4 linked regions of the Homo sapiens genome follow. The protein of the gene in region 3 interacts with the protein of the main gene of each other region in a biochemical or structural test. Each region holds a gene or a part of one and is shown on either strand. Other genes may lie near its edges. The genes, in order: CDKN1B, SKP2, CCNE1 and ARIH1.

The links.
Region 1: of the proteins of CCNE1 (region 3) and CDKN1B, one has a biochemical effect on the other in vitro, tested with the Homo sapiens proteins (4 studies listed by BioGRID, with this or other methods).
Region 2: the proteins of CCNE1 (region 3) and SKP2 form a complex in vitro, tested with the Homo sapiens proteins (2 studies listed by BioGRID, with this or other methods).
Region 4: of the proteins of CCNE1 (region 3) and ARIH1, one has a biochemical effect on the other in vitro, tested with the Homo sapiens proteins (3 studies listed by BioGRID).

The regions. Positions count from the first base shown.
Region 1 is NC_000012.12:12,713,134-12,720,708, reverse strand, and holds the start of CDKN1B (cyclin-dependent kinase inhibitor 1B), read right to left. Parts: upstream 3,342-7,575; 5' UTR 2,870-3,341; coding exon 2,395-2,869; intron 1,885-2,394; coding exon 1,763-1,884; 3' UTR 1,755-1,762; intron 1-1,754. UniProt on the Homo sapiens protein: Important regulator of cell cycle progression. Inhibits the kinase activity of CDK2 bound to cyclin A, but has little inhibitory activity on CDK2 bound to SPDYA. Involved in G1 arrest. Potent inhibitor of cyclin E- and cyclin A-CDK2 complexes.
Region 2 is NC_000005.10:36,169,049-36,176,475, reverse strand, and holds part of SKP2 (S-phase kinase-associated protein 2), read right to left. Parts: intron 6,133-7,427; coding exon 6,034-6,132; intron 4,874-6,033; coding exon 4,743-4,873; intron 1-4,742. UniProt on the Homo sapiens protein: Substrate recognition component of a SCF (SKP1-CUL1-F-box protein) E3 ubiquitin-protein ligase complex which mediates the ubiquitination and subsequent proteasomal degradation of target proteins involved in cell cycle progression, signal transduction and transcription.
Region 3 is NC_000019.10:29,814,573-29,821,999, forward strand, and holds part of CCNE1 (G1/S-specific cyclin-E1), read left to right. Parts: intron 1-2,564; coding exon 2,565-2,710; intron 2,711-2,833; coding exon 2,834-2,969; intron 2,970-6,129; coding exon 6,130-6,276; intron 6,277-7,149; coding exon 7,150-7,245; intron 7,246-7,423; coding exon 7,424-7,427. UniProt on the Homo sapiens protein: Essential for the control of the cell cycle at the G1/S (start) transition.
Region 4 is NC_000015.10:72,596,179-72,603,605, reverse strand, and holds the end of ARIH1 (E3 ubiquitin-protein ligase ARIH1), read right to left. Parts: 3' UTR 619-7,427; downstream 1-618. UniProt on the Homo sapiens protein: E3 ubiquitin-protein ligase, which catalyzes ubiquitination of target proteins together with ubiquitin-conjugating enzyme E2 UBE2L3.

The sequences.
Region 1 (7,575 bases), on a different chromosome or scaffold from region 3:
CAGGGATAATTCCAAACAATCTAAAACACACAGGACAGCCTCCTACAACAGAATTATTCGGCCCAAAATGTCATTAGTGCAGAGGCTGAGAAACCCTACTCTAAATAATCTAGGTCAAAGGCAAGTGGGAAATAAATAGGATAATTAGGAAACTGTAATACTTACGGGTAAAAATTTTCTAAATTTTTGAAAATTTTTAATTTTTTTTCTCCTGTGACAGATTAAACTTTCTAAATTTGAAAAATGATTGGGAATAAAAATTATAAAGGCCTTCCAGAGGAAAATTTTATTAACATCATTTTCAAAATATTCTAATTCCTGATTCATATGCAGAAAATACTCATGAATACTTTTGAATAGGTTCTTACTAATATTTCTAGTATTCTTTGAACTAGCAATATTACTAAATCCTACAAATGCCTCATTGCATGTCAGAACAGGGCCAGATCAAAATCCAGGTCTGATTCTCGTGGCTCATCTGATGAGCTAGGCCACAAGTCACAAACCAACAAGGGCTGCGCATGTTAAGGTTGCTTCAGGAAAATTTTCACCTAATTTTCCCACTTCATATGGTGCTGTAAAATGGAGGTTCTATAGTGCCGTTTTGTATAAGCGCTGAAAAAGATATGTGAAGTCACATATACAATTTAAAGACACAACAAACCTGAATCTCACCTTAATCCCTGTTATTTTAAAATTTTTATAACTGGGGATTTAAAAAGTTAACATCAATATTTTATCGCCTCATATGCTAAACTACGTGTGTGCTTTAGAAAATAAAGAGGTCACAGTCTTGGTCTAAAGGAAGCTAATAAACTATTAAAATATGTAGTTTATTATGAATAACCAACCCATGTTGGTTATCTGGGGACTGAATTATTCAAATTAGCTATTTACAGTGATCAGATTCTTGTGCATGGAAAAATCTCCACTTCCTTTGTGCTGGGCTGACCTACGGTCACCAGTCTTGATATTTACTACCCATTTCCCCTACAAATATCCAAATCACCCTGTTACGGCACAATTAGCATACACTGGCTGACGTGTTCCTGGATTGCTTACTGACAAGAGTTAATTTAACTTCTGCTTTGCAACTTCAGTGTTACCAGAAATTCTGTAGAAACTTTAGTAACTTTTTTATCTTTCCATTTGGTTTTTGCAAATACTGGTTCCTTCTCTCTCCAAACTTAGGAGACAACAGGGAAAGTGACAGTTTATTAAAATGTCAAAGAACACAACATACCATCCTATTCACATCTCTAATCCCTTGCATAACCAAAGATGAGCAATTTCTACCAAACATTCCCCCTCAAAATTGAAACTTAATCATGTATTTGCCATTTTTCCATGTATGGCTCAAAATCTGTTACCGACTCAAGCTGAACCTCTAGGAAATTAATTCTCATTAATTCGGACTGAGGGAGTACCCTAGTTCTTGTTCGGATGGGCAAAGAACCTATTGCTCCCAACACGTTTTAGTGGGACTCACAGGGAAACGACCTTCCTACCCGATGGGGCCTGGGTTACAAGTAGCTGCTCTGGTCAACAGTTTGAAGAGAAAGTATCTCTGGGCATAGAAACTCTGAGGAATTACCGTATCCCCAGCCTTCCCCATTGCTACTTTTTTGACCTCACGAAGTATAAACAAAACAAAACCCCATAAGCTTTTAATTTGCCAGCAACCAGTAAGATCAGGTATCGTGAGGTCTGAAGGCCCCGGGTTCCAGTGCGTGCTCCTTTAGTGATCAACCCACCGAGCTGTTTACGTTTGACGTCTTCTGAGGCCAGGCTTCTTGGGCGTCTGCTCCACAGAACCGGCATTTGGGGAACCGTCTGAAACATTTTCTTCTGTTCTGTTGGCTCTTTTGTTTTGAGTAGAAGAATCTAAGCGCAGGGGAAATTTTTAAAAAGAACACACAATCTTTATTAGAAAAAACAATGGCTGGCAGAAGTTGGCCCCATAGTCAGGGGATGAAAAACCCACTACCTCCACCCACAATCCTGGATCCGTCATCCCCAGTGGCTTTTAAGGGCACAAAATGAGGTTGTTTTCAAAAAACAGAAAGTGCATTCTCCGCCCCAGAGCTCTTTCCCTAGCCAGGAGGCGGACCGTTGATAAACATCCCAACTTTGTCACATACCTAGGAGTTGCTAGTGAGAGGGACCGCGATGTATTAAGTTAGGGAAATTATCGGATCTTACCATCTCCAGTTTCTGACTTAAAAGTCACAAACAGACAAGCAGTGGGCCAGGTAGCACTGAACACCTAAGACCAATAAAGTTAGCTCTCCCAAAGCTAAATCAGAATACGCCGAAAAGCAAGCTAAGGTTAACACCCTCCAGCAGGCAAAGCGGGGCCCCAAACACATTCTATGGTTGGGAAAGGGTCATTACCGTCGGTTGCAGGTCGCTTCCTTATTCCTGCGCATTGCTCCGCTAACCCCGTCTGGCTGTCCGACGGATCAGTCTTTGGGTCCACCAAATGCGTGTCCTCAGAGTTAGCCGGAGCCCCAATTAAAGGCGCCGCCGGGCGGCTCCCGCTGACATCCTGGCTCTCCTGCGCCGGCACCTTGCAGGCACCTTTGGGGGGCCGCGGGGGTCTGTAGTAGAACTCGGGCAAGCTGCCCTTCTCCACCTCTTGCCACTCGTACTTGCCCTCTAGGGGTTTGTGATTCTGAAAATCGAAATTCCACTTGCGCTGGCTCGCCTCTTCCATGTCTCTGCAGTGCTTCTCCAAGTCCCGGGTTAACTCTTCGTGGTCCACCGGGCCGAAGAGGTTCCTGCAGGCCGAGGGCTTGGGGTGCTCCGCCTGCCTGGCGTCCATCCGCTCCAGGCTAGGGCTCCCGTTAGACACTCGCACGTTTGACATCTTTCTCCCGGGTCTGCACGACCGCCTCTCTCGCACTCTCAAAAAAACAAAACCGAACAAAACAAAGCGCCCCTACGCAGCCCGAACCCCTCTCGGAAGCCCAGCGACTGCCCTCGGAGCCAAAAGACACAGACCCCGACGAGCCACGGCCCGAGCTCTAGGAGCGCGCAGGGGCTGCGGGGAAGCCCCGGCCCGGCCGCCGAGTCTCCGCTGATCAAATGGACTGGCGAGCGGGAGGGCGGAGAGGAGAGGGGACCAGGCAAGCGGAGAGGGTGGCAAAGCCCGTCCGAGTCTGGGCGGGTGCAAGCCCGCGGGTCCCGCGAACCCAGCCGCTCTCCAAACCTTGCCGGCGTCGGAGTCGCAGAGCCGTGAGCAAGCGGGGACAGGGGAGGGGGAGAAAAACACCCCGAAAAGACGAGCCCCCTTTTTTTAGTGGCCCAATATGGCGGTGGAAGGGAGGCTGACGAAGAAGAAAATGATTGACACGGCGAGTCTATTTAAACAGAGGAGGAGATCCATTGGTTGCGGCGGCGGGAGCCGCCCCGCCGAGGCTGGCGAGCGCGGCCTTAAGGTGGCCCCGGCGCGGTTCCGCCACCTCCCCTCGTTCCCGAGCGCGCCGCCTCCCCGAGCGCCGCCGGGAGATTGGCTGGTCGCGTGACTGCTGGAGGGGTACTGCTGCCAACAAACCTGCTCTGGCTGGCCTCGGAGAAATTAAAATTAAGACAAACAAACTAGCCAAACGGCCGGGAACCTGGGGCGGGGCCTGAGGTTCGGGGCCCGGCGCTGCGTTGGCGGGTTCGCCGCGGCGCCTAAGCCCCGACCTCCCTCCCGCTCCTCGCCCGGGAAGCCGGGACCTGGACCAGAGGACCGCGAAGGTCGCCGGCAGCTCGCTAGGAGCCGGGGTGGCGAGCTGCCCCCAGCTCGGCCCTCCCCAGCGGCCCCCACCTCGTGGTCTGCGGGGGAGGCCGCGGAGCGTTTGCTGGGGGGGCTGGGCGCCCCCCCGCCGGCGTGCCTTTGCTGGGGGCTGGTGGAGGCAGTGGGCAATGGTTCGCTCAGCCTTAACCCAGAAGTTTCTGCCATCCCTGGGGAGGCTGGGGGCCTAGGGAAGAAGCCAAAGCGAACGTCTTTCTTTTAGAAATTAGCCAGGAGTAGACGCGGCACTTATCATGAACTCAAGCTCTCCCTCAATGAAAATAAGAAAGGAACTCAAGATTAAAAAAAAAAAACAAAAAACTCTAGTCTCTCAAGTCCCTTAATAAACTTTGTAGCTGTCTCAGACACGTTTAGTTTTGAAAAACGAGGGTACACCCCTGGCCCAGGATCTTCCTTCCCAAGCACAGTTAAGGCCATGGACATTGGCTGCGTGTGGGAACTCGTCCCTTTCTACTTTTCTGTTCTTTCCCGGGATTGTAGCAGTTTCCTCTACCTGAGTCCAGCCGCCAAATACAACAGCTCCTTCCTTCCTCCACCCTTCTCTCTCACCAGATTTCACTGCTCCAACAAACTCAGAACAATATTCAGATGCTAGTGAATGCTTTCAGAGGGCTGAAGGGTGAAAATACTCCCCTCGGGGTCAAACTCCAGATGATGAAATGATTTTTAAAACACCACAACCATGTCCTAACGTCCGATACTAGTATTCCAGCGTTTCTCTTCTCCCTTTTGCAGCTGGAAATTTCTCTCTCAGTGTGGGCTTGAGCACCGTGGTGGAAGGTAAAGTAGGACGATGAGCAGGGCTGCCCTGAGACAAAGCTCAGTGGATCTTCAACTGCCTCCCCACCCCCATGCCCGGTACCCATCATCTTGGTTTGAGCCAAAGTTAATGCATTTTACTGGAAACCAACCTTCCGTTCTAATATTACACAGCAGCAAAGTTTTCTTAAGCACCTATGCTACAGATGAGCTTGATGTGTAGCTTGTTTTCTTAGCCACATCTTGTCCACTTTGTGTGCCTACCTCATCTCATACGCTCCAGAATGTGACAGCTGGAAGGGACCCTCGGGACCCTGTGGTTTAACCCTCTCCTTTTTACCACGGAGGAAATCGAGACTCAGAGAGGTTTCCTGTCCAGGGACATGCATTCGGTTGGTACCGGAGTCAGGACTAGATGCAAGTCTCCTAACACTCAGGTTGGTTCATTTTCTGTTCCTTTCCTTCCTAATGGTTCTCACTGGTTCAGGGTTTTGTCTGAGTTTGATTGTGCTGTAGTCTGCAGGTCCTGCTGTCTTACAAGTGACTGAAAATGGCTCCTTCCCAGGCCCTGGGTTGCCTGCAGATGTTTCCTTGATGTGGCCTGTGGTCACTGATATTTAAATGCAGCTGTCTTGAGCCTGTGGTATCACCATCCACTAGTTCAACTAAAATTGAAGGACAGGGGTTGATACCCAGAGAACAGTAAAGGGGGCAGTGCCCAGAACTAGTTTTCAAGTCAGGACTTCCTACCTAACTGACAGAAAAGAATTCACCTAGGATCAAGCAAGAGGTCTCATCCTCTTTAGTTTTTCTACTTTTAAGGCTGTCAATTTATTGGACTGCAGACTGGGGGAAAAGGAACAGGAAAATTAGGGTAGGCCTCCCTACCATAATTTATACCTTACCCTAGAAATTAGATAATTGTCCAAATTTTAAAACAATTGCTAGACAACACAGGAACTCTATATATGTGCATCTATCCATATGCATAAACACCCAAACTACCACATGTATGTAAATGGAGACATTCTAGAGTAGTTCACCTTGCCACAGAAGTTTGATTTTACTCATGGAATTCATGTCTTATATGGAAGTGGAAAATAAACACTTCGATCCCCTTCACATGCTGAATCTTTCAACTAATATGTAGGAGCACCATTTTGTCGCTTTGTTGTTGTTGATCTCGAAAAGTAAGCAAGTCACAGTCACACCACCTTAAGAAGTCTGGCTGCCAGCAGAAAGGCTGTGCTTACATCGACCTCACAATGATCTAAAGTGTTTTGTTTACAGTCAAGGCACCGGAGATCTGTACAGCAAATAATGAGAACGCAGGCGTCTGCTGTAGTAGCGACGACGCGTGAAAAAAAATACTATGGAGTCCCTGAAGGAACAGGGAGCGTAGAGATCAGAGCGCCATCCTTCTGCAAAGTGGGCAGCTGCAAGCGAGTAAGCCAGGGGGAAAATTTTCAGATAAACAGTGTTAAAGGTGGACCCTGGTAAAAGACGGAAAGCTCTACACTGCACTGCTCTAAAGTGAGCTGTTTCCCCAAAACCCCCAGTCCTGCGTGATGTTTTGGTTGCCATTTTCACTGCTGTTTTCCTACTTAGGGCTGAGAAGCGTCCCATAAGCCATCCCAGATTTCTGTAATCTTCACAACCTGAGGAGAGAGGCAAAGACCAAAATAACTTAAGAGAAAACACCTGTGTCATAGACAAGTGTTCAGATGGGGTGAATGAGCAAGCCGCCAGCGTCGCCAGCTCCCAGATGCAGCGCTCTCACCCAAGTTCTGCAGCCCCAAATGTTTCTGCGAAGGTTCACGGTTCCTTGCCCAGCTGCCCCTCCCACCGCAAGCACACAGTTTCAGTCCTTCCTCGAGGATGTTTATAATGAGGCAGCACTCAACTCCACCATTCTTCTAAGCTCACATATTTTTAGACTTTGGGAATTTCACAGTCATCTCCTTCTGACACTTTTAATTCAATTTCACAAATATTTACGGAGCACCTTCTATTAATTTGCTTATTCCTTCTTTCTTTCAACAAATATTTATTGAGTGCCTCCTCTATGCCAGACATTATCCTTAGGCTCTGGGAACACAGAAGTAAACAAACAGATTTAAACTAGAATGATGCTGACATTCCAAAAAGGGGAGAGGAGACAGAAAATGAACACAGCACATGAAAGAAGTACATACTATGTAAGGAGGTGAAAAATGCTATGGAGAAACAATAAGCGGAGAGGGAAAAGGAAGTGTTTCAAGGATCACAATGTGAATAAGTGGTCAGGGAAGGCCTCATGGAGAAAGTGGCCTTTGAGGCCAGGTGCAGTGGCTCACACCTGTAATCCCAGCACTTTGGGAGGCAGAGGCAGGTGGATCACTTGATGTCAGGAGTTCAAGACCAGCCTGGCCAACATGATGAAACTCATCTCTACTACAAATACAAACATTAGCTGGGCATGGTAGTGCAGGCCTGTAATCCCAGCTACTCAGGAGGCTGAGGCAGGATAATGACTTGAACACAGGAGGCGGAGGTTGCAGTGAGCCAAGATCTTGCCACTGCACACCAGCCTGGAAGACAGAGTGAGACTCCATCTCACACACACAAAAAAGGTGGCCTTTGAGAGAAGCCCTGAAGACATGAGAGAGCAGCCATACAGCTATCTGGGGAAAGAGCAAATGAAGTGTCTCTGAGGTGGGATCTTGCCTAATGTGTTCAAGGAACAGCAGGGGGGCCCATGGTGGATAGGGCGGAGCAAGTGGGGAGTGGTAACAGGAGCATCAGGGCTGGGCACGGTGCTCACGCCTATAATCCTAGCACTTTGGAAGGCCAAGGTGGGTGGATCACTTGAGGTCAGGAGTTCAAGACCAGCCTGGCCAACATGGTGAAACCCTGTCTCTACTAATAATACAAAAATTAGCTGGACATGGTGGCACACGCCTGTGATCCCAGCTAGTCGGAAGGCTGAGGCAGGAGAATTGCTTGAACCTGGGAGGCGGAGGTTATAGTGAGCC
Region 2 (7,427 bases), on a different chromosome or scaffold from region 3:
GTATTTAGGGTAATAATATATTAAATATTAAAAATTACTAAATAAATAATTCAGGGTAATTATTTAATTGAATCTTGGTATAAGGTATTTCTAAACATAAAAGAAAACATAGGGAACACATAAATTTACTACATAAAATTTTAAAACTACCATATTAAAACAATTTAAAAAGTATCAGAAAACTGGGAATGTTTTCAACATATATTAAACAGTGAGTTAATCTTATATAAAGAGAAAAAAGATAAATCAAAAATAGGCAATGAACATGAACAAATCTACATTGCAAAATACCAAGATAATAAAAAGGAGCAAGAAATACCAAATAAAATTAGAAATATTTCTTCTCAGCCATCAAGTGAAAAAAAATTCTATTATAAAGTAGGTCTACCATAAAGTAGGTCTTCCATGTACCACAGGTAGATATTTAATTTTATTTGCAGGCTTTCAGGAGCCTGAACCCTGCGTTTTTTGGATAGTGAACTGATTCCTGCTTTTTTTGGATAGTGAACTGATTTTCTTTTTTTTTTAAAGAATTCAGAGAATTATACAGTTTACTTTTGGCCCAGTAATTCCACTTTTAGAAAAATATAGATGTGTATGAATATATTCAATGTGGCAACAGTTATATTAGCCCCTCCTCCAGTTAGTTTAATATGTTAACCTCATCCATTCCGTGAAATACACTGCTAATCATTATGAAAACGCTTTCTGATAACATTTCATACATTTAAAAAAATACTAGGATAGCTTGTAAACAAAATATATACAATGCGTTATAATTTCAACTTGGTCAAAACACACTCAAACTCACATTTACACACAAACACATACACAGAAAGAAAGAGAGAAGAAAAAAAAAAGGCTGCAAGGAAATACATCCAAAATGTTAACTGCAGTATTCAAGGGTGTTTGGATTACAGGCAACTTTTCAGAATTTGGAAGAAAGTCATGTAAGCTACTTGGCAATCAGAAAATGAATCAATAAATGTTACTTATTTAGAACAACAGGCAAACTTCATTAACATTTGAGGGTTTTTTCGTCTCACAAGTATATCCCCTCTCCTAAATTCTGGACTTGCATTTTCAACTGCCTCCTCAACATACCGTTTGGATATGAGATAGGCCTCTAAATTTATGTCTAAAATCAAATACTCAATTTCTCCCCCAAATTTCCTCCTTCCCTAAACTCTTTCCCATCTCAGCAAGTGATAATTTCACGAATCCAGTGGCTTCAGCCAAAACCCTTGAAATCATAGTGGACTATTTTTCTCACATCCCACGTTCATTGTGTCACCAAATCTCATGATGTTGGTTTTTAAAATGTGCCCAAATCTGATCATTTCTTACCACCTTAAGTGTCACCAGCCTAGTCTGCTAACTGGTCTCCCTGCTTCATACTTCCCCGCTACAGCCTTTTCTCAACACAGCACTAGCGTGAGTCTTTTAAAATGAAGTCAGTCATATTGCTCTGCTCGAAATACTCCAATGGCTTCCCATATCCCATGTCACTTAGGAAAAATTCAAAGCTTTTGCCTTGGCTTAGACAGCCCTTGGCCATCTTTCTCCTCTCACTGTTCTCCCTGCTCCCTCTCACACATTGGTTCCATATCAAGGTATTTGCACTCACTGGTCCTTTGTTCTTGAATGTTCTTCTCTCACATATGCATATGGATTCCTTCTTCACTCAGTCAGTTCTCTGGGTCCAGTACAGTCTCCTCAGAGAGGCCCTGTCTTTAACCATTCCATCTAAAAGTAGTCCTCTTTCTGCCACATTCTATCTGGTTACTCTGCTTTGCTCTTCGTCCTTGCATTTTTACCTCCTTTCATAACATTTATGAAATATGTTCACTTTCTGGCTCCCCCACTAGAAAGTAATCTTCATAAGAGTGACTTTCTCTGTTTTGTTCAAGGCTCTGTTTTGTTCAATCACTGTAGGTGCTCAATAAATATTTAATAAATGACCAAAAAATGAAAAAAGTACACAATAAAATTTTGAGGGACCAATCATCTAGCCAGCCAACTAGCCATCAGCAAAATCTGATGCAATCATACTTTGACACCACTGGAGAAAGAACGAAACATTGGGGGATAAAGGGTTAGTTTCCTCTGGCCCACACTTAAGCTCTGTCCTCCCTGGGCAGGAAGTAGTTAGTAAACAGTAGTCACTGCCAAGGTTTCCTTTTCACTGTCCCCTTCATTTCACCATAAACAGTAGACCCAACCTGAGCTAGAAGGATCTTAGAAACCACCCGTTAATCCAACCCGTTACTTCAAAGGAGAGATGATTTCAGCTACAGAAGTCAAGGTCAAATCCAAGACCAAATGTTTCTGTGCTTCATCCATTGCTCCATGGAAAGGTAGTGATGGGGGTAGTGGGGGAAGGAACAGTATTAACAGCCAACACTAATTGAACTCTTACCATGTGGCAAGAAATGTTCCACATGCTGTACATGTCTTAACTCATTTATTCTTTCCTGTAACTCTAAGAGATGGGTTCTACTTATCTCCATTTTACTGCTGAGAAAACTAAGGAACAGGCAAGTTTAGCAACTTGCTCAAGTCTACCCAGTAAATGGCAGAGTGGATATTTGAACCCAGGCCATCTGGTACCAGTCTATGAGCTAAAACCAAATCCATATTATCTCATATATAATGAAATGGTGTGTGCTATTGTTAATGACATTAAAAACTTTTTATCCCCATGGTATAATTAAAAAACTAACACTTCAATTTACAGTCTGTCTCTCTGTCCTGAATGTGTCTAGCAAGCAGCATTTTAATACCTACTATTTCTGCCAAAACTCGGTAAACAGGCTCTCTGTTCTTTCTTGGAGGAACAAAGGGAAAGATTTTAAGCCAAATTTGGACAAAACCAACAGCACTTTGCCTACAGCAGTTTCTCAACCTTGCACCCAGAGCCTCGATTCATGTCAGAAAATCTTTCAGTAAACCAGTGAAAGATCCAGATGTGGGAAAGAAATATAAACAAGGCACTGCCTTCCCTTCACCTGCAGACAGAGAAGAACCAAGAGTGATGGGATTTCACACTAAGAGGATGCTCGTGGGTGAAGAGTTTAAACTTCTTGGAGGAAAATTTGGCAGAAACTATCCAAAACTTGAGAATAGTACTTAATGCTGGACCCAGCAATTCCACTTTTAAGAATCTATCCTTAGAAATGCATCTAAAGATTTGTCTCTGTCACTCATAAAATTGTTTATAGGAGAGAAAAACTGGGAAGATTCTGAAAGTCCATTAGAATTCTGATCAACTGCATATATTGTTATTGACTTAATATAAATTATTGCATATCTATTTGATGGACTATCACATAGCCACTGATGATGACATCATGTAGTCACTGAAAATGGGGTTAAAAAGCATATTACGAAGTATTTAATATACCATGTCCCATTAAAAAAAAAAACAGTTTTTGTACAGGAAAAAGCCTAGCAAGATGTTAAGATTATTGATAATTTGCTTCCCTTTGTGTTTTTCTGTATTTTACATTTTTTTTAAATGACTGTATAACACTATGATCAGTTTTAAAATAGTAATTATAAATACTGGGTGGGGAGAGTGGTATGAAATGAAGACATGATTGCTGCTTTTACAGCTTGCTAAAGAAAGTGTTCACCTTGTCTGAAAATGCAAGTGTTTGGAATGGCAGTAGTCCAAATTTGAGTCCTTGCACAGGTGAAAGACTCGAATTTCTACCCACTCATGAGATCCTAGCAATTATTTTCTATAGCTTTATACATCTTACCAGAGGACATCTGTCCTGGAGCAGTAGTTTTATACTACTTAAATTTTAAGATCTATTCTGCAGATGTTTGATTCAAATCTTTTTCAGAATAATAAAAACTATAATAAACAAAACACACTCAAATAAGCTAGTACTAACATCAAGATATGGTTGATGTGTGTTGCTGGTTTAACTAGGTTTTGTAGAGCCCACAAACTGAATGTTGGCCTGAGACGGTGAAGCCATTTAAAAAACTTGCCATTTGTAATCACTTATCTTTGCAAATCAAGATTTTCTCATTAACATACAAGTAAAATAAAGCGTAACTGAATATTAAGGTTTTTAAAGACTGCTCCCTGCTACCTTTGACTTCTAATGCCTGTTTTCATCTAAAAATCCTCGTTGCCCTCTTGGACTGAATAAAAAGTAAAAGTCATAAATATGAACTTATTAACAGAGTTTATAATAGTTTTTCAACCTTGGAACTGATGTTTGGACCAGATTATTGTGCATGCTATTCTCCATCCTATACACCGTCCACCAGCATCCTGGCTTCCGCCCATGAGAGACCATCAGCACTCCTACAGCTGTGACAATAAAAAATGTCTCCAGACATTGACAAATGTCCCCGTACAGACAAAATAGCCCCTAATGAACAACCACTACTTAATACTAATCAAATGCTACATTTATGTATTTTTATGTTGGGGTTTACCTAACCATTTAGTTGATTAAAAGTTTTTCTGCTTAAAAATACATTGTTTTCAAGTGTAAAGGTTTCTACTGTTAGATCCTGAATTCAAACCTTGGCTCTAGCTCACTAGCTGTTTACCTTTACCTAACCATTCTGATTAGCAGCTACCTCATCTGAAAAAGGGGACTAACACATGCACTGGATTAAATGAGAAAACTTATGTGGAGGAATGATTAGGAGAAGCTCAATGAATCTCATCTATTATGTTGTGAAGGCCTCAGTGGTCCAGGCTTGGAAGCTCTAACCTGATTTCTGGAGATTCTTTCTGTAGCCGCTAAGATTCAGCTGGGTGATGGTCTCTGACACATGCGCAACAGCCACCTGTACATGCTTTTCAGTGAAATCAAAACACCAGGAGAGGTTCAGCTCATCCAGTCTGCACAAAAGAGGGGTAATAAACAAAATATGAAACCATCACACGGGAATGAGTTTGCCTCAAACTGCAAACAAAGAAAATATAAAACCATGGATTCCTTATCATTTCATGCACAGAACACCTGCTTCTCTAACAGTAGCTACCTTTAGTCACCTAAGTATACCCTGTTTGCCCCTGAAAGTTGCCAGGGGATCAGAAGGGCCTTAGTGAATGTGCCTCCTCCTCGAAATGGAGAGAAGCACCTGATGGCTCAAACCTTATTCCAGTACTGCAGGTAGAAATGCCAGTCTTTTATGTTTGCTTTCTCAAACTACCAACCACCCAACACAGACTGAACAATCACTCAGGATGTTTTACGCAATTGATGGATTGCACTGAGGATTCCTAATAAAGAGATGCTGATATTGCAAAAAGCCACTTCGTCTTACTGTGCTTCTGCTAACTGAGCAAAAACGAGGGTTTCAGAGACAAAATACAACCATTAATCCCCACTCCCCACTTCTGGCACTGCTGACTAAATATAGGGCTATACATTTGATCTCACTGATAACACGCATATCCAGAGGCAATCTATTTTAAATGGACCATTAACAAGACACAGATTCAAATGCTGTACCATGGAGACCAAGGGATATTTTTAAAAAACACACATATGCCTAGTACTGTGTATTCCAAAAAGCATGTACTCCCCTCACTTAGCAATATCTGTAACTCTGTACCCTTTATGTGCTGACATTATTATGAAAGATATTGTTAATAGAATTGCCCAAATTTACGGTCTATATTTATAAAACACCAAATTTGATAAAAAATTGTAAGTTAGGTCTACAGATACCATAGGGGAAAAAACCTGAATGTACAGTTAAGTGTGAGCAAATTTCTTACAACCATACTGTTGATAGACACTACTACACTTCCCTTATTTTAACAGTTCCAAATAAACAAAAAAGAGATCACTATACAAGTATCACTTGCAAACTCAATTGACTTGGCTCCTGAGTTTGGACAGAAAGTTAGGAGGGCAAAAGATTTTGCATTCACCAAATCAAGAGCCTGGAAAGTACAAAAAGCTCAAAAAGTTCATCCCATTTTATACAGATGTGAGGGATAATTTTACGTTTGACATAAGAGTCTATAATCAAGTCTCACATCTTTCATACCTGGAACAGCTGCTTAGCAAAGTCTGCAGGGCAAATTCAGAGAATCCAGAACACCCAGAAAGGTTAAGTCGCACTAAATTTGAGTTTTTTGCGAGAGTACTGGAAAAAGAGAAAAACGTCAGAAGAAAAAGACCAGTAAGACACTATTCATCAACAACATTTAGATGAAAGCAGGCGAGTGTAGTTAAGCTCACAGGTCTTTGAGTCAGTGAGTTTAAAATGTATATCACTATCTCTCAGACATCAAACAGGATAATTTGCCTCAGTTTACTCATTTGTGAAATGGTATTATCAAACTTCTTGGCAGAGTTATTAAGAAGATTAAATGATATAATGTAATAAAAGACTTACTATGAAGCAAATACACAAGAATATCAATCAATGTACTTTTTGAATTAAAAAGACAATGGAATAAACATATATCCATTTCACCCATAATTAGAATTAGCTTGCAAACATCTACTTGTAAAATCACCAGGTTCTTTTGATTATACATCTCTCAAATTTGCCATCTTCTCTAATACATCCCCAAATGCCCTGTGTTAGTAAAACTTAGTGATTAAGAGTAAGAATTCTGGAATATTGTATCACTAGGTTCACATGTTGGTTCAGCCACCTACTAACAATGTGACCCTGGAAAAGACTTACTCAGTCTCCCTGTGTCTCAGTTTCCACAACTATAAAAAGGAAACAAGATCACACTTCATAGGGTTGCTGTCAGAATTAAATGAAAATGCATTTACAAAATTCACTATCTGGCACATAATACATGCCCCAAAACATTAGCTGCTATTACTGCTATCTGTTTTATATCAGACTTCACCTTTTCTCACTTGAACGAACACAGCAGTATCCTTAACTACTCTAGCTTCTTCTATCCTCGATGGACCCTCCATGGTACCTGGCAAGTTAATTTCCTAAATTTCAACTCTTGACTTGTTCCTTCCATTCTCAGAACAACTCTCTCCACCATCCTTCCCTTTTTTTATTTTTTTTTCAGATGGAGTTTTGCTCTTGTCACCTAGGCTGGAGTGCAATGTTGTGGTCTCAGCTCATGGCAACCTCCGCCTCCCGGGTTCAAGCGATTCTCCTGCCTCAGCCTCCTGAGTAGCTGGGATTACAGGTGCCTGCCACCACACCCAGCTAATTTTTGTATTTTTAGTAGAGACAGGATTTCACCATGTTGGCCAGGCTGGTCTCAAACTCCCAACCTCAGGTGATCTGCCCACCTTAGCCTCCCAAAGTGCTGGGATTACAGGTGTGAGCCACCACACCTGGCCCATGCTTCCCTCTTAATGGAAGAGTCCAGTCCATTCTTCTTACAGCAAGGCGTAGGGGCCCATTACAATCTGGTCCCTGACTCTCCTCACCTTGTCACTCTCCTCCCTTAGTCC
Region 3 (7,427 bases):
CTGTCTATGTATGGAGCAGTATCTTTGTTATTTCTTTGTGGAGCTTCATGAAACTAGAACTTGGGGGTACAACAGAACCTTTTTCCCTGCTCACATACAGAATTTTTCTCTGGAGTTATCATAATTCCCCCCAGTACGACAGTCTTGAGCTACTTGGAGCCATTGTGCCAAACTCTTGTGTAACTGCTTCATCGAGACCACATGGAAGCTTTTTAATTTTCATCTTAGGCTGTTCTTAATGAAAAGAATACCCTTTTATCTAAGATCTACTTAACACGTCCATTTTGTTGTTTAATTTTTTTGCACAAGACTCAATCTTTCTATTGAAGTGGAATCCTGGACTGTTACTTTTCAGAAAATAATCCTATGTAAGGAAAAAAGTGGTATGAGGAGTTGGAGTGGTTAGGAATCCCGTGGGTCTCTTATTGTTATCTCATTCTTTCCTAAATAAAGTCAGACAGATCTTGCTTTGAAACTTGGTGTACACTCAAGGACATAGACTTAATTATTCTACCTCATCCACTGGTCCCTAAAAAGGCCAACTTTGGAAACCATTTGTCTGCTGATGGTTCACCTAGTTTGGGAACTGCTGCTGGACTCATCTATGTCCAAAGGCCTGCTCTCAGATGTGCCAGCCATCTGGCTGTAGAGGGTGGCACCCAGCATTATGCCTTCAAGACTAGAATTCATTCTTCCTGAATGAAGAACAACTTACAGCGGTTGTAATGTGACCCTTTTTGAGTTAAGGAAATGCCACCCGCACATGGTACTAGAACTGAAAGGAAGCAGCCTTGCTCGCACAGCTGTTGGCAGGAGCTGTCATGGATAATTTGCATGCCCAATTCTTTGTACATTGGGTGGGGAAGAGCTTTATCTGGCTTTGCTCTTCTAACTGAAAGTGCTTGGGCTTCCTCTGAAGGCGGCCAATGTGTTGTGGTCGCCACCATGTGCTGTGTCTTCGAGGTAGCACTTACAGCCCGAGTTTCCACTTTCATTTATAGTGACCCCAGTTGTCTATTTTGTTCTTTAGTCAATGTTAATGGTCTCTGCTTTTTTTTTTTTTTTTTTGGGGGGGGGACAGAGTCTTGCTCCGTCACCCAGGCTGGAGAGCAATGGCGCGAGCTCGGCTCCCTGCAACCTCCGCCTCCCAGGTTCAAGTGATTCTCCTGCTTCAGCCTCCCGAGTAGTTGGGATTACAGGCGCCCGCTACCACACCCGGCTAATTTTTGTATTTTTAGTAGAGACGGGGTTTCACCAGGTTGGCCAGGCTGGTGGTCTCTGCTTTAAAAAAAAAAAAAAATGCCAGGTGCGGTGGCTCAGGCTTGTAATCCCAGCACTTTTGGAAGACAAGGCAGGAGGATGGCTTGAGTCCAGGAGTTCGAGACCAGCCTGGACAACATGGCAAAACCCCATCTCTACAAAAAAATACAAAAATTAGCTGGGTGTGCTCGTGCATGCCTGTAGTCCTAGCTGCTCAGGAGGCTGAGGCAGGAGGATCGCTTGACCCCAGGAGGCAGAGGTTGTAGTGAGCTGAGATTACACCACTGCACTCCAGCCTGGGGAACAGAGGGAGACCCTCTCTCAAAAAAAAAAAAAAAAAAGCCAAGTCTCAGACTTTCATATGGCTTCCATGCTAGTAGGATTGTTACCTGCCTAATATCTTTAGCAAAGTTACTATTTTATAACTTTAAAAATCAAACAGACTTCTTAGAGTAGGAATAGCTTTAAAAATGAAAATATTCTAAATGGACTTTAGTGTTTTTCAGATATTGAAAATTGAATACATATCTGAAACCTTTAAAAGAAAAGCATAGTGCTTTGGTTTCTAATAGTTCCTTATTTTATCAGGTATTTGAATTACCCTGCAAGACTCAGGAGATTCAGAGGTCTTAAGGAGTGTCTAGGCTAGCTTCCTGTAGACTTCATAGTATGACCTGTGACCATCACTTGATTTGGTTTTAACTAGGTGGATGTTCATTCTGTTTGTTTCGAGTTAAGGAAAAGAAAAAGTCCTTTATTATTTAACATATTTGGCTAGTCCTGCAACAAAAAGAAAATGTCACATTTGATGAGTTTTTGTTTTAAACTGAGGGGACTTTAATACATATGGCAGCCAAATTTACATTTTTGATCTTTTTTTTATTATACTTTTAAGTTTTAGGGTACATGTGCACAACGTGCAGGTTAGTTACATATGTATACATGTGCCATGTTGGTGTGCTGCACCCATTAACTCATCATTTAACCTTAGGTATATCTCCTAATGCTATCCCTCCCCCCTCCCCCCCATTTTTGATCTTTTATACTAATGAATGTGAAGTGCTTATGTAAATATTTTTATTGACAGTTCTGTTTTACTTTTAAGAAATTTTAGTAGATGCATTGTACTCATTAAAAAAATCTTTGAGTTGTGACAAAAAATATCATAATGTATCTTTTTGGAAGCACTTTCAGAAGTCATGCCTAGTATCTTACTGAGTTGCAGGTGAATTTGTAATGTTTTTGGGTAATGTAAGAGCTGTTTGCATCTTATCTCACCTCTCCTGTGTATTTTTCATTTACAGCCTTGGGACAATAATGCAGTCTGTGCAGACCCCTGCTCCCTGATCCCCACACCTGACAAAGAAGATGATGACCGGGTTTACCCAAACTCAACGTGCAAGCCTCGGATTATTGCACCATCCAGAGGCTCCCCGCTGCCTGTACTGAGGTCAGTGCCGACTCTGCCACATGGCTTCCAGGTCTCTTACTCCATGCTCCCCTTTATCCCTCATAGCATGGACGCATTCTTACCCCTTTGTGGGCCTCATTTTTGTTGTGTGTTTTGTTGTAGCTGGGCAAATAGAGAGGAAGTCTGGAAAATCATGTTAAACAAGGAAAAGACATACTTAAGGGATCAGCACTTTCTTGAGCAACACCCTCTTCTGCAGCCAAAAATGCGAGCAATTCTTCTGGATTGGTTAATGGAGGTGAGCTTGAGTCTTCCTGTTCGCTTCATGAAAGCACTGAGCATTTCCAGCATTTTTGTGTATTAGGACCTCTGTGTGGTTTATTCCCTCGACATGTTCTCCATCTCTGAAGCTATATGGTATATTTTTACTGTGGTGGTCTTTCTGTTTTGCTTGTATTCTTAGCAAGAATTTCTGAAATCTTTTTATCCTTCAGATGTTTTAAAATTGGCATCTAATTTTTTCCATCCAAGTTTAAATAATTGTTAAGATTGTATTTTCCAGTAAATTGTAACTGTTAACATTTGAGCTTTGTTCATTATGTTCATTAAATTGCTTTTTTTTTTTTTTTTTTTTTGAGATGGAGTCTTGCTTTGTCACCCAGGCTGGAGTGCAGTGGCACAATCTCAGCTCACTGCAACCTCTGCCTCACGGGTTCAAGTGACTTTCCTGGCCTCAGCCTCCTGAGTAGCTGGGATTACAGGCGCACGCCATCACGCCCAGTATTTTTTTTTTTTTTTTTTGAGACGGAGTCTTGCTCTGTCACCCAGGCTAGAGTGCAGTGGTGCGATCTCAGCTTACTGCAAGCTCCTCCTCCCGGGTTCATGCCATTCTCCTGCCTCAGCCTCCCGAGTAGCTGGGACTACAGGCGCCCGCCACCACGTCTGGCTAATTTTTTGTATTTTTAGTAGAAATGGGGTTTCACCGTGTTAGCCAGGATGGTCTCGATCTCCTGACCTCGTGGTTTGCCCGCCTTGGCCTCCCAAAGTGCTGAGATTACAGGCGTGAGCCACCGCACCCTGCCTAATTTTTGTATTTTTAGAAGAAACGGGGTTTCACCATGTTGGCCAGGCTGGTCTTGAACTCCTGACCTTGTGATCCACCCACCTCGGCCTCCCAGAATGCTGGGATTACAGGTGTGAGCCACCATGCCCAGCTAAATTGCTTTTAAATGTATTCACTGGGATGCATATATCACCTGTTTTATAGCTACTGTCATAAATTGTAAACATATATGAACAAGCTTATCTTAAACAGGTCTGACATTGCTCCTTTTTAACTTCTTGGAATCCATTCCCTTTTCCACCATTCCCATTTATTCTAATAAAATATATTGTTCAAATCCTGGCTGGGCACAGTGGCTCATGTCTGTAATCCCAGCACTTTGGAAGGCCAAGGCAGAAGGATCCCTTGAGCCCAGGAGTTAGAGACTAGCCTGGGCAACATAGCGAGACCCCATGTCTTTTTTTTTTTTTTTTGAGACGGAGTTTCGCTCTTGTTGCCCAGGCTGGCATGCAATGGTGTGATCTTGGCTCACCACAACCTCTGCCTCCCGGGTTCAAGCGATTTTCTTGCCTCAGGCTCCCGAGTAGCTGGGATTACAGGCATACGCCACCACGCCCGGCTAATTTTGTATTTTTAGTAGAGACGGGGTTTCCTCCATGTTGGTCAGGCTGGTCTTGAAGTCCCGACCTCAGGTGATCCGCCCGCCTTGGCCTCCCAAAGTGCTGGGATTACAGGCGTGAGCCACTGCGCCTGGCCCTTGAGACCCCATTTCAACAAAAAATAAAAAATTGTCAGGGTATAGTGGCTCAGGCTTGTAGTCACAACTACTGGGGAGGCTGAAGTGGGAGGATTGCTTGAGCCTGGGAGTTGGAGCTTGCAGTGAGCTGTGATAGCGCCACTGCACTCCAGCCTAGGTGACCATGAGACTCTGTCTCAATTTTTTTTTTAAGCATATTTTTAAAGATATTTGGACCATTGGAGTGGCTTCTGTGTTTTGAGACAGAGTTGCTCTGTCACCCAAGCTGGAGTGTAGTGGTGCAGTCACGGCTCACTGCAGGCTCCAATTCCTGGGCTCAAGCAGTCCTCCCACCTCAGCCTCCGCAGTCCTTGGGACTACAGGCATGAGCCACTACTCCCTGCCGATTTTTTATTTTTTGTTGAGTTGGGGTCTTGCTATGTTGCCCCGGCTGGTCTCCAACTCCTGGGATCAAGGGATCCCCATGCCTTGGCCTCCCAAAGTGCTGGGATTGCAGGTGTGAGCTACAGCACCCAACTCAAATCTTTTCTTGGTCCACACTATTTTATTTCTCTTTAACAGTTAATCAAAAGAACAAGTATAACAACATTTGATAGATAATGGTTAAACATAAAAGATGAGATTTTATTGGTTGTATATCTTACTGGGATGAACTGCGGTAGCTTATAGTTTCTTGATTAAGGGAAGCTTCCTAGACAACCTTGTAAGACTTGAATGGGTGAGAAGTGGGCTTTTCTTCTGAAGTGGAAGGACATCTCAGGCAGACCTGCTTCATGAAAACATGTAGAAGTTGAGTGTGTAACTACAGAAGTACCCCTCATCCTCGGGGGTACATCCCAAGACCCGCAGGAGATGCCTGAAGCCACAGATAGTACTGAGCTCTAGATATGCCATGTTTTTAATCCTCTACTTTCATGTTTTCACTTAAAGAAAGCACTTCACGGCTTCTCTTTGGCATTTCCAAATAGCCAGCATCACTACTCTTGCCCTGTGGGGCCATTATTCAGTCAAATAAGGGCTGCTTGCTTGAACACCAGCACTGCTGTGCTGTGACAGTCCATCTGATGACCTGTGTGCTAGTGAGTGACTAACAGGCAGGTGGCCTACTCCACGGGGATGTGCGGGCAAGGGGATGATTCACATCCTAGGCAGGTGAGGGTGGGACAGGCCAGAAGGGCCCCTCATTTAAAACCTATCAGTTGTTAGGCTGGGCACAGTGGCTCATCCCTATAATCCCAGCACTTTGGGAGGCCGAAGCAGGTGGATCACTTGAGGCCGGGAGTTCAAAACCAGCCTGGCCAACGTGGTGAAATACCATTTCTACTAAAAATACAAAAATTAGCTGGGCATGGTGGCGGGTGCTGGTAATTCCAGCTACTCGGGAGGCTGAAGCAAGAGAATCGCTTGAGCCTGGAAGTTGGAGGTTGCAGTGAACCAAGATCACAACACTACTTTCCAGACTGGGTGACAGAATAAGGCACCTCAAAAAAAAAACAAAAAAACAAAAAACTATCAATTGTTGAGTTCAGGAACTTTGCATTTTATATTTTCCTTCACCAAAGTCATTACAAGTTTTTTTTTTTTCCCCTCCCTCAAGTAAAACTTACTTGTGCTAAAACTTACTAAATATGTTTTCAGGTGTGTGAAGTCTATAAACTTCACAGGGAGACCTTTTACTTGGCACAAGATTTCTTTGACCGGTATATGGCGACACAAGAAAATGTTGTAAAAACTCTTTTACAGCTTATTGGGATTTCATCTTTATTTATTGCAGCCAAACTTGAGGTAAATAATTTTCAAATATTTGTTCTATAATGTGTGTTATTTCTCGAGCTCCACTGAGATTGGGGGAAGAGGTTGGCGCTTAGCCTATAGCACTCATCCTAAATTTTTCTGATTTGCTACCCTGTAAAGTTAAGACACATGCCAAAAAGAAAAAAAGGCTGGAAAGTGACCAGGAAGAGAAAAGTAGTGAGGGTATGGAAGACCTAGGTTCATGTAGTTACATTGAGCCAAAAAAAAAAATGAACTTTGAACTAAGATAATAATTTTGGGCCCGGGTTGGTGGCTCAAGCCTATAATCCCAGCACTTTGGGAGGCCAAGGCAGCTGGGTCACTTGAGGCCAGTAGTTTGAGACATGGTGAAATACCATTTGTACTAAAAATACAAAAAATTAGCCAGGCGTGGTGGCACGTGCCTGTAATCCCAGCTATTCGGGAGGCTGAGGCAAGAGAATTGCTGGAGCCCAGGTGGCCGAGGTTGCAGTGAGTCGAGATCCTACCACTGCACTCCAGCCTGGGCAACAGAGGGAAATTCTGTCTAAAAGAAAAAAGAAAAGATTAAAAATTTGTGTATGATTATCAAAGGGTATATGGGCCCAACTTTCAAATGTGTTAAAGGTACTGAAAAGGGGATATTTCAAGAGTACCCACAATGAGTCAAAGTTCCATCCATTTATTTAATGGTGGGTGGGAGTTGTGTTCTTTTTTTTTTTTTTTTTTTTTTTTACAACCATTGGTGTGGCTTCTGTGTTAATTCCATCAGTGCGCCCTCTCTCTTTCCATGCCAGGGTACTGAGAAGTCATTTTGGATGCATTATAAATTGAGACTGTTAGAGATTGGCTTTGGTGCTAGTGCCATCTTTTATTTCCTTTCAGGAAATCTATCCTCCAAAGTTGCACCAGTTTGCGTATGTGACAGATGGAGCTTGTTCAGGAGATGAAATTCTCACCATGGAATTAATGATTATGAAGGTGGGTTCCAGTGAATTTTCCGGCCATTTTTTAAATGCGTACGGCAGATCTTTTCCACCTGAAGTGTGAGTGCCTCTGGGAGGTGTTCTCCAGCTGGACACATTGTGGCATGGAACATGGCTGCATTTTGAACTTCTTTTCTCAATCATCGGTCTCTTTTCTCTCTGTTTTCCTTTAGGCCC
Region 4 (7,427 bases), on a different chromosome or scaffold from region 3:
TGCCAAAAGCATTGGGCTGATTTCGTTTCGCTCTGAGAATGAATTGGTATCTGCTATCTTTGACCATGGGTGACTGACTGCAGATCATGCCTTTTTCATTCATGTTAATTCATTCCTTACCTTTTTTTTTTTTTTTTTTTTTTGAGACATGTCACCCAGGCTGGAGTGCAATGGCACTAACTAGGCTCACTGCAACCTCTGCCTCCCAGGCTCAAGCCATCCTTCCACCTCAGCCTCCCCAGTAGCTGGGACCACAGGTGTGTGCCACCACACCTGGCTAGTTTTTTTGGTAAAATTAGCCCCAGTACAGACGGGGTTTCTCCATGTTGCCCAGGCTGGTCTCGAATTCGTGAGCTCAAAGCAATCTGCCTGCCTCAGCCTCCCAAACTGCTGGGATTACAGGCATGAGCCACTGTGCCCAGCCTGGAAAAAAAATCCACTTCTAATCTAGCAAATTTTGTGTTCTTGTTTACTATTTTAGCATTAATAACACCAAGTGACTAACATTCTCCTCATGAGCGCTATGCTAGGAATAAAAGCTTGCCACGGTGGAATTATCTAAACTAGAAGAAATCAATACCATGGATCCCAACAAAAATCAACAAAAGGGACCACATGTTCATTTTATCTGATATATTTCTGGAAAAAAATGTTTGCCATAGCAAAATGGAGACGGGGAGCCAAGCAGCAAAATACATCCGTAGTGAGGTACAGAAAACAGTATCCACTAGAAATCTTTTCAGGAAGGGTGCCATTTTGGGTTGGAGAAACTCCTTGAAAGTTAATTTGGGGGAGAAGGAGAGTCCTTGAGGGACCAGGGTAAGGTCAGAACGTTTCCTGGGAGAAAGGGGGAACATTTCTCTGGCTAATAAGGGCACAGTGCCGGACAGGGTGAAGAAGAAAAAGTCAGTCAAGAGTGGTACATTTCAGAGCATGAAAGGCCTCACACTGCATAAAATAGACTACACCTTAAGACTTCCAATTTTCAGTAAGACTCTTAGGCCCATATAAAATTCAGGAGCCTGTGGATTTTTTGGTGTGGAAACCACTGAAGAGGCAGATTGTACATCTAAATTGCAAGGGCGAGACTTAAGTATGAATTGGGAATTTAGAGTGTAGCAAATTAGTCAGACATTAGATAATAAGTAAGCAAAGTTTATGAACAATTCACCAAGAAATACAAATGGCTCTTTAACATATGAAAATATAACTGTGCAAGGAAAAAAAACATGCAAATTAGTTTCCAAGAGATACTTTCCATTTCTTGCATTGGCAAAGAACAAAAATTTCACTGACATAATTGTGAGGACAAATGCATTCACTAGTGGGAATTCATAAAACTTCCATTGAGAGCAGTTTGGCAATAACTACCAAAATTAAAAATGCACATAATCTTTAACTGAATTATTTCAATTCTAGTAATTTATTCTATAGGCATAGATGTGGGAAATGACTTTACATACAAAGGTATTCAATGCAGCATTATTTGTAATAACCAATGCCTAAAACCAACCTAGATAGAGGTTAAATAAATTATAAGTCCATATTATATGGCGCATGAAAAAGAAAGAGGCAACTATTTACATATTAATATTGAATAATTGCCAAGATATATTATTAACAGATAAAGTGCAGAAAATGCATATAGTATCTGTATTAATAAAAAGGCAAAAATAAAGAGGAATATTATATACATAATTGCTTGTATACTTAGAAAATATTTCTGGAAGGATATTCAAAATGCTAAAAGTGGTTCTAAAGAGGAGAACTGGGTAGCGGGGGGACAGGGAAGAGAAGACTTTTTACTCTATACCTTTAATACATTTTGAATTTTGTACTATATGGATGTATTACCTACTCCAATAATAGCGACTAAGAAAGTGAAAAGCACAACATACCAAGAATTGTGATAAATGCTAAGAAGGAGAAATATAGAACAGTTAGAACAAACAATGGGGAGCCAATCTAGACTTGTTTGGACAGGGAAATTTTTCCTGGGTAAGAGATGTTTAAAATGAGACCTAAAGGGTAAGGCATTAGCTTAGGGAAAGGGGATGAAGACATGTGCAGGCCAGGAAAGAATTCTAAGGCAAAGGAAGAACTTGTGCAAAGGCCCTGAGGATGGAAGAATCTCAGCCAGTTTGCAGCACAGAATGAAGACCAGTGTGAAAAGAGAAAAAGGTAACAGGGTTGGTTGCAATAGGAGAAGAGGTAGGAGTGCAGATCCACAAAGGCCATATGAGGAATTTTATTTTAAGGGCATTGGGAAGGCACTAGAGAATTTTGAGCAAGGAATGGCATGGTCAGAATGAACACTTAATAAACTCATGTTAGCTCATGAGTAGAGACTGAATTGGGAGGGGGACAAAAATTGATAATCTAGGGTAAACTAAAGGATGCTGCAAATGAGATGATGAAACACTTCACTTGGACTAGTGTGATGGCAAAGGAGATGGAGAAAAAGTAAATGGGTTCTCAAGTTTAGAGGTGGAAAAACCTCCAATACACATGATTGGATATGGGGGAATGAGGGAAAGGGAAATGGATGTTAAAGGAAGATTGCCAGGTTTCTTACTTTGAAAGCTGCTGGATGAGTGGTACAGCCAATTACTGAAATGGGAAGACTTAAGGACAAAGATGTTTGTAGAAAGCTCATGAGGCTGTTTCCCAATATGTGAAATCTCCCTGAAAGGGGTCCTGTGAGGAGCAAATGACATTCTTTATTCAATAACTAGAAGCCATTGCTATAATGTTTCAAAATCTCTCCTTTGACCTCAGATCTTGTGAGGAAGATAGAACACTTTCTGTACCAGGGCCTTTTTCAATAAGAAAGGACATTGGTTTCTCAAATTGCAATCACTAAACCTAATGTACTTTAATTATATACATAATTAGAACAATCTCTTTTTAAAAAAACATAATAGGTTGGATACTATGGTTCACACCTGTAATCCCAACACTTTGAGATGCTGAGGCAGGAGGATTGCTTGAGCCCAGGAGTTCAATACCAGCCTGAGCAACATAGTGAGACCCGTCTCTACAAAAAATTTTAAAATGAGCCTGGCATGATGGCATGTGTCTGTAGTCCTAGCTACTTGGGAGACTGAGGAGAGAGGCTCTCCTGAGCCCAGGAGCTCAAGGTTGCAGTGAGCTATGATTGCACCACTGAACTCCAGCCTGGGTGACAGAGTGAGATCCACTGTAAAACAAACAAACAAGAAGTATGTTCACAGGAAAATCCCAGAAATCACATAGAACATGTTTCTTGTGTCACAGATGGATCTTCATTTCCCTTAGCAAATCTCCTCAAATGTGACCCTGCTTATCAAGATTATTCAAATCATATAGCTGTGCTGGGCATACAAAAAAAATGGCATTTATCTATTTTTATGGTGGGGGCTGAGGACATAGAAGAGGAATCAGGCATCGGTAACTTTTCAACACCCCCAATATATGTATAAACAAGGAGCTACAGTTGAGTTTTTACATTTTTAATGTTTTATCATTTGTACTGACAAGGTCCATAGCCAGCTTTGTTCTGATGCCACCTGCTGGACAAGTCTGTAACATCTTATTTCTCTTTGGAAGTGTCCAGTCCTCCCAAAACCTATACCACAAACGCTTGAGAGTCCAGCCAACACTGGGAAATATCACTTCAAAATAATATGAAGCTTCACTGGACTTCATGGAGGATTTTCAGTATGCCTATTCTTGATGCTACAGATATACTCAATAGCAATCAATGGTGAATGTGGACAAAGGCATAATACTGCATTGTTTGTGAGAAAAAATACTGGAAACATGGAAATGTCCATCACCAGTAACTGTTTAAATAAACTAAGATACATCCATATTAAGACATATTATGCAGCCTGTAAAAGTCCTCAGGTTGTTAAAATAGTTACATAAAACAAATAAAGTGTAGAAAATATAGTATGCTTCCATTCATGTTTAAAAAAATAATAAGGGGGAGGCCAGGTGCAGTAGCTCACGCCAGAACTATGAGAAGTCGAGGTAGGAGGCCAGGAGTTTGAGACCAGCCTAGGCAGCACAGTGAGACCCCTGTCTCTACAAAAAATAAAAAATAAAAGGAAGAGATATTGACACATTTTAGAAATACAGTTTGGAAAAGAAAACACAACCAACTGGTAAGATATTTGTCTCTGTGGAGGGAGTAGAGGCACTAGGGGAGTTAAGATGGGAAGGTGTTGCTTTTCTTTATGATTCTACAAAATTTAACTTTGTATTATCCATGTACTTTTACTTTTGAAAACAGTTAATGAGGCCAGGAGCGATGGCTCACACCTGTAATCCCAGCACTTTGGGAGGCTGAGGCGGGTGGATCAACTGAGGTCAGGAGTTGGAGACCAACCTGGCCAACATGGTGAAACCCTGTCTCTACTAAAAATACAAAAATTAGCTGGGTGTGGTGGCGGGCGCCTGTAATCCCAGCTACTCAGGAGGCTGAGTCACGAGAATCACGAGGCAGAGGTTGCAATGAGCCTAGATCGTGCCACTGCACTCCAGCCTGGGCAACAGAGCCAGACTCTGTCTCAAAAAAGAAAAAAATACTAGCTAATGAAATATGTAAATAAAACCATTGTTTAAACTCCCATTCCTAACCAGGCATGGTGGCTCATGCCTTTAATCCCAGCACTTTGGAAAACCAAGGTGGGAGGATCACAGGCAACATAGCGAGACCCAAACTCTACAAAAAAAAAAAAGCCAGGCATGGTGGCACATGACTGTGGTCCCAGCTACTCAAGAGGCTGAGGCAAGAGGATCACTTGAGCCCAGAAGGTCAAGCCAGCAGTGAGCTATGATCATGTCATGGCACTCAAGCCTGGGTGGCAGTGAGACGTGTTTAAAAAAAAATTTTTTTTTTTTTTTTTGAGAGGGAGTCTTGCTCTGTCACCCAGGCTGGAGTGCAGTGGCACAATCTCGGCTCACTGCAACCTCCGCCTCCCAGGTTCAAGCAAATCTCCTGACTCAGTCTCTCAAGTAGCTGGGATTACAGGCGCCCACCACCACACCTGGCTAATTTTAGTATTTTTAGTAGAGTTGGGGTTTCACTATGTTGGCCAGGCTGGTCTCAAACTCCTGATCTCAGGTGATCCACCTGCCTCGGCCTCCCAAAGTGCTGGGATTACAGGCATGAGACACTGTGCCTGACCTAAAAAAATTTTTTATTAAAAAAATAAACTCCTACTTCTGAAATTCACTAGTGATATGAACAAAGTCACAAGGAATATACCTCCCACTCTAGCAAACAACAACAAAAGGCCAGATGAGCTAGAAAATAAAACATATGTTTAATTCATCAGAAAGCTAAGGACACAAAGAAATCTAGGTTGGGTGCAGTGGTTTATGCCTGTAACCCCAGGACTTTGGGGTGCTGAGGCAGGCAGATCGCTTGAGCTCAGAAGTTTGAGATCAGCCTGGGCAACATGGTAAAACCCTATCTCAACAAAAAATACAAAAATTAGCCGGGTGTGGTGGTACACGCCTGTAGTCCCAGCTGCTCAGGAGGCTGAGGTGGGAGGATCAACTGAGCCAGGAAGGCAGAGGTTGTAGTGAGCTGAGATCACTACAGGCTGTACTCCAGGCTGGGTAAGAGTGAGACCCTGTCTCAAAATAAAAACAAAAACCAAAGAAACCTAAATGATCCAAACTCCAGAAAGTGCCAAGTCCTTCATAGGAGAGAAGAGACCCCCTAGCTGTTGTTATTCCTAGTTGAACTATGGTAGGAAGAGGAATACTACAGGGGGGAGAAAAGAGAAACCTGCTGAAATTTAACAACATTTTCACAACCCCTTGGAGGCTGGTTTGACATTAGAACCTAGATGACCCAAATCCACAGAGGAAGGCTTCCCACCAATCTTACCCCTTAGATGATAACCAGGTACAGGAAGGTGTAGTACACTAAAGGTGTGGATAATAGAAGGAACGCTGAGAGAGCTTGACTTCTCCCAAGGGCAAAATACCCTTTAAAAATGAAAGGGGAGGCAGGATTGTTGTGAAATCCAACAGAGGCACTCTTGGAGCCTAAATGGGGTCAGAAATGCTGAGAAACCCATCCCCTAGGCATTGTGGGCATTCCTCTACAAAAGGGCAGGGCACACATGAGAGCTGAGAAAGATCCTCCTATCCCCAGCCCATTGATTAAAAAAAAAAATCCTGGCAGCAAGGTTGTAAAGTAGGGAAAGATCTCCCACATTGATAAAAGCTGGTGGCTTAGCTATGAAGCAAAGTCAGATCTCTGGAATCTTGCCAATGCCCAAAACTCAGGCCCTGGTGATATGAGAGTTCTGATTCTACGTTCCTTCAAATATTTGAAGCTAGAGGCAAACTGAATCAAACTAAAACTGCAGTGAAGCCCCAGTCTAGAATTCATATACATCAGATTGAGCCACCATTCAAGTGGCCTGAAAAAAAAACAAAGGGCATGCTCTGTTTTGGAAGTAAACATTTTCTTCAATTTCTTTTTTTTTTCAACATAAAACGTCCATCATCCAATCAAATATACAAGACGTGCAAAAGCAAGAAAATAAGATTCATGGTAAGGGAGAGGAAGGGCTCAATAGAAGCAGAACTAGAAAAGACCCAGATGTTGAATTATCAGTTTGGATCCTTAAAATAACTGATTAAAAATGAAAGAAAAAACAGAAAAAACCCAATAAAATAACTGATTAAAATGCTAAAAAGTAGAATGGAAAATGTGGAAAACATGCATGAAGAAATAGGAAATTTCAGCAGAAAATTGTAACTATACAAATATAATGAAATGCTAGAAATAAAAATATTAGAAATGAATAATTCAGTACAACTATGTATCCATAAATAACTAAAAATAAAAATTTTTAAATGGAGAATTCAATAAACAAGTTTAACAGGTTAACATTGGAAAGCATCAAAAAACTTAAAGATGGTTAAATGGAAAGTATCCAAACTGAAAACAAAAAGAAAACAGGGCAGGGGAAAAATCATCTGAGATCTGTAGGTTTATATCAAATCATCTAATATACATGTAACTAGAATCTCCAAAGAAGAGGAGAAGCAAGAGAGTATGAGACAAGAGAAAAATGTAAACGGATAACGGCCAAGAAAGAACCAATATTAATGAAAGACATCAACACAGATCCAAGAAGTTCAGTAAACTCTATACAAAGAAAAACATACCTAGACATTCCCTAGTCAATCTACTGAAAAGTAAATATAATGCACAGATGCAGCCATTGAGAACAACCACACATTACGGAAAGGAAATAAAAATTAAAATGATGAATGACTTCTCACCAGAAACAAATGAGGCCTGAGTACAATAAAATAACTTCTTTAAAGTACTGAAAGAAGAAATAAAAGGTCAACATAGAGTCCTATATCCAACTAAAATACCCCTCAAAAATAAAAGTAAGGACATTCTCTTA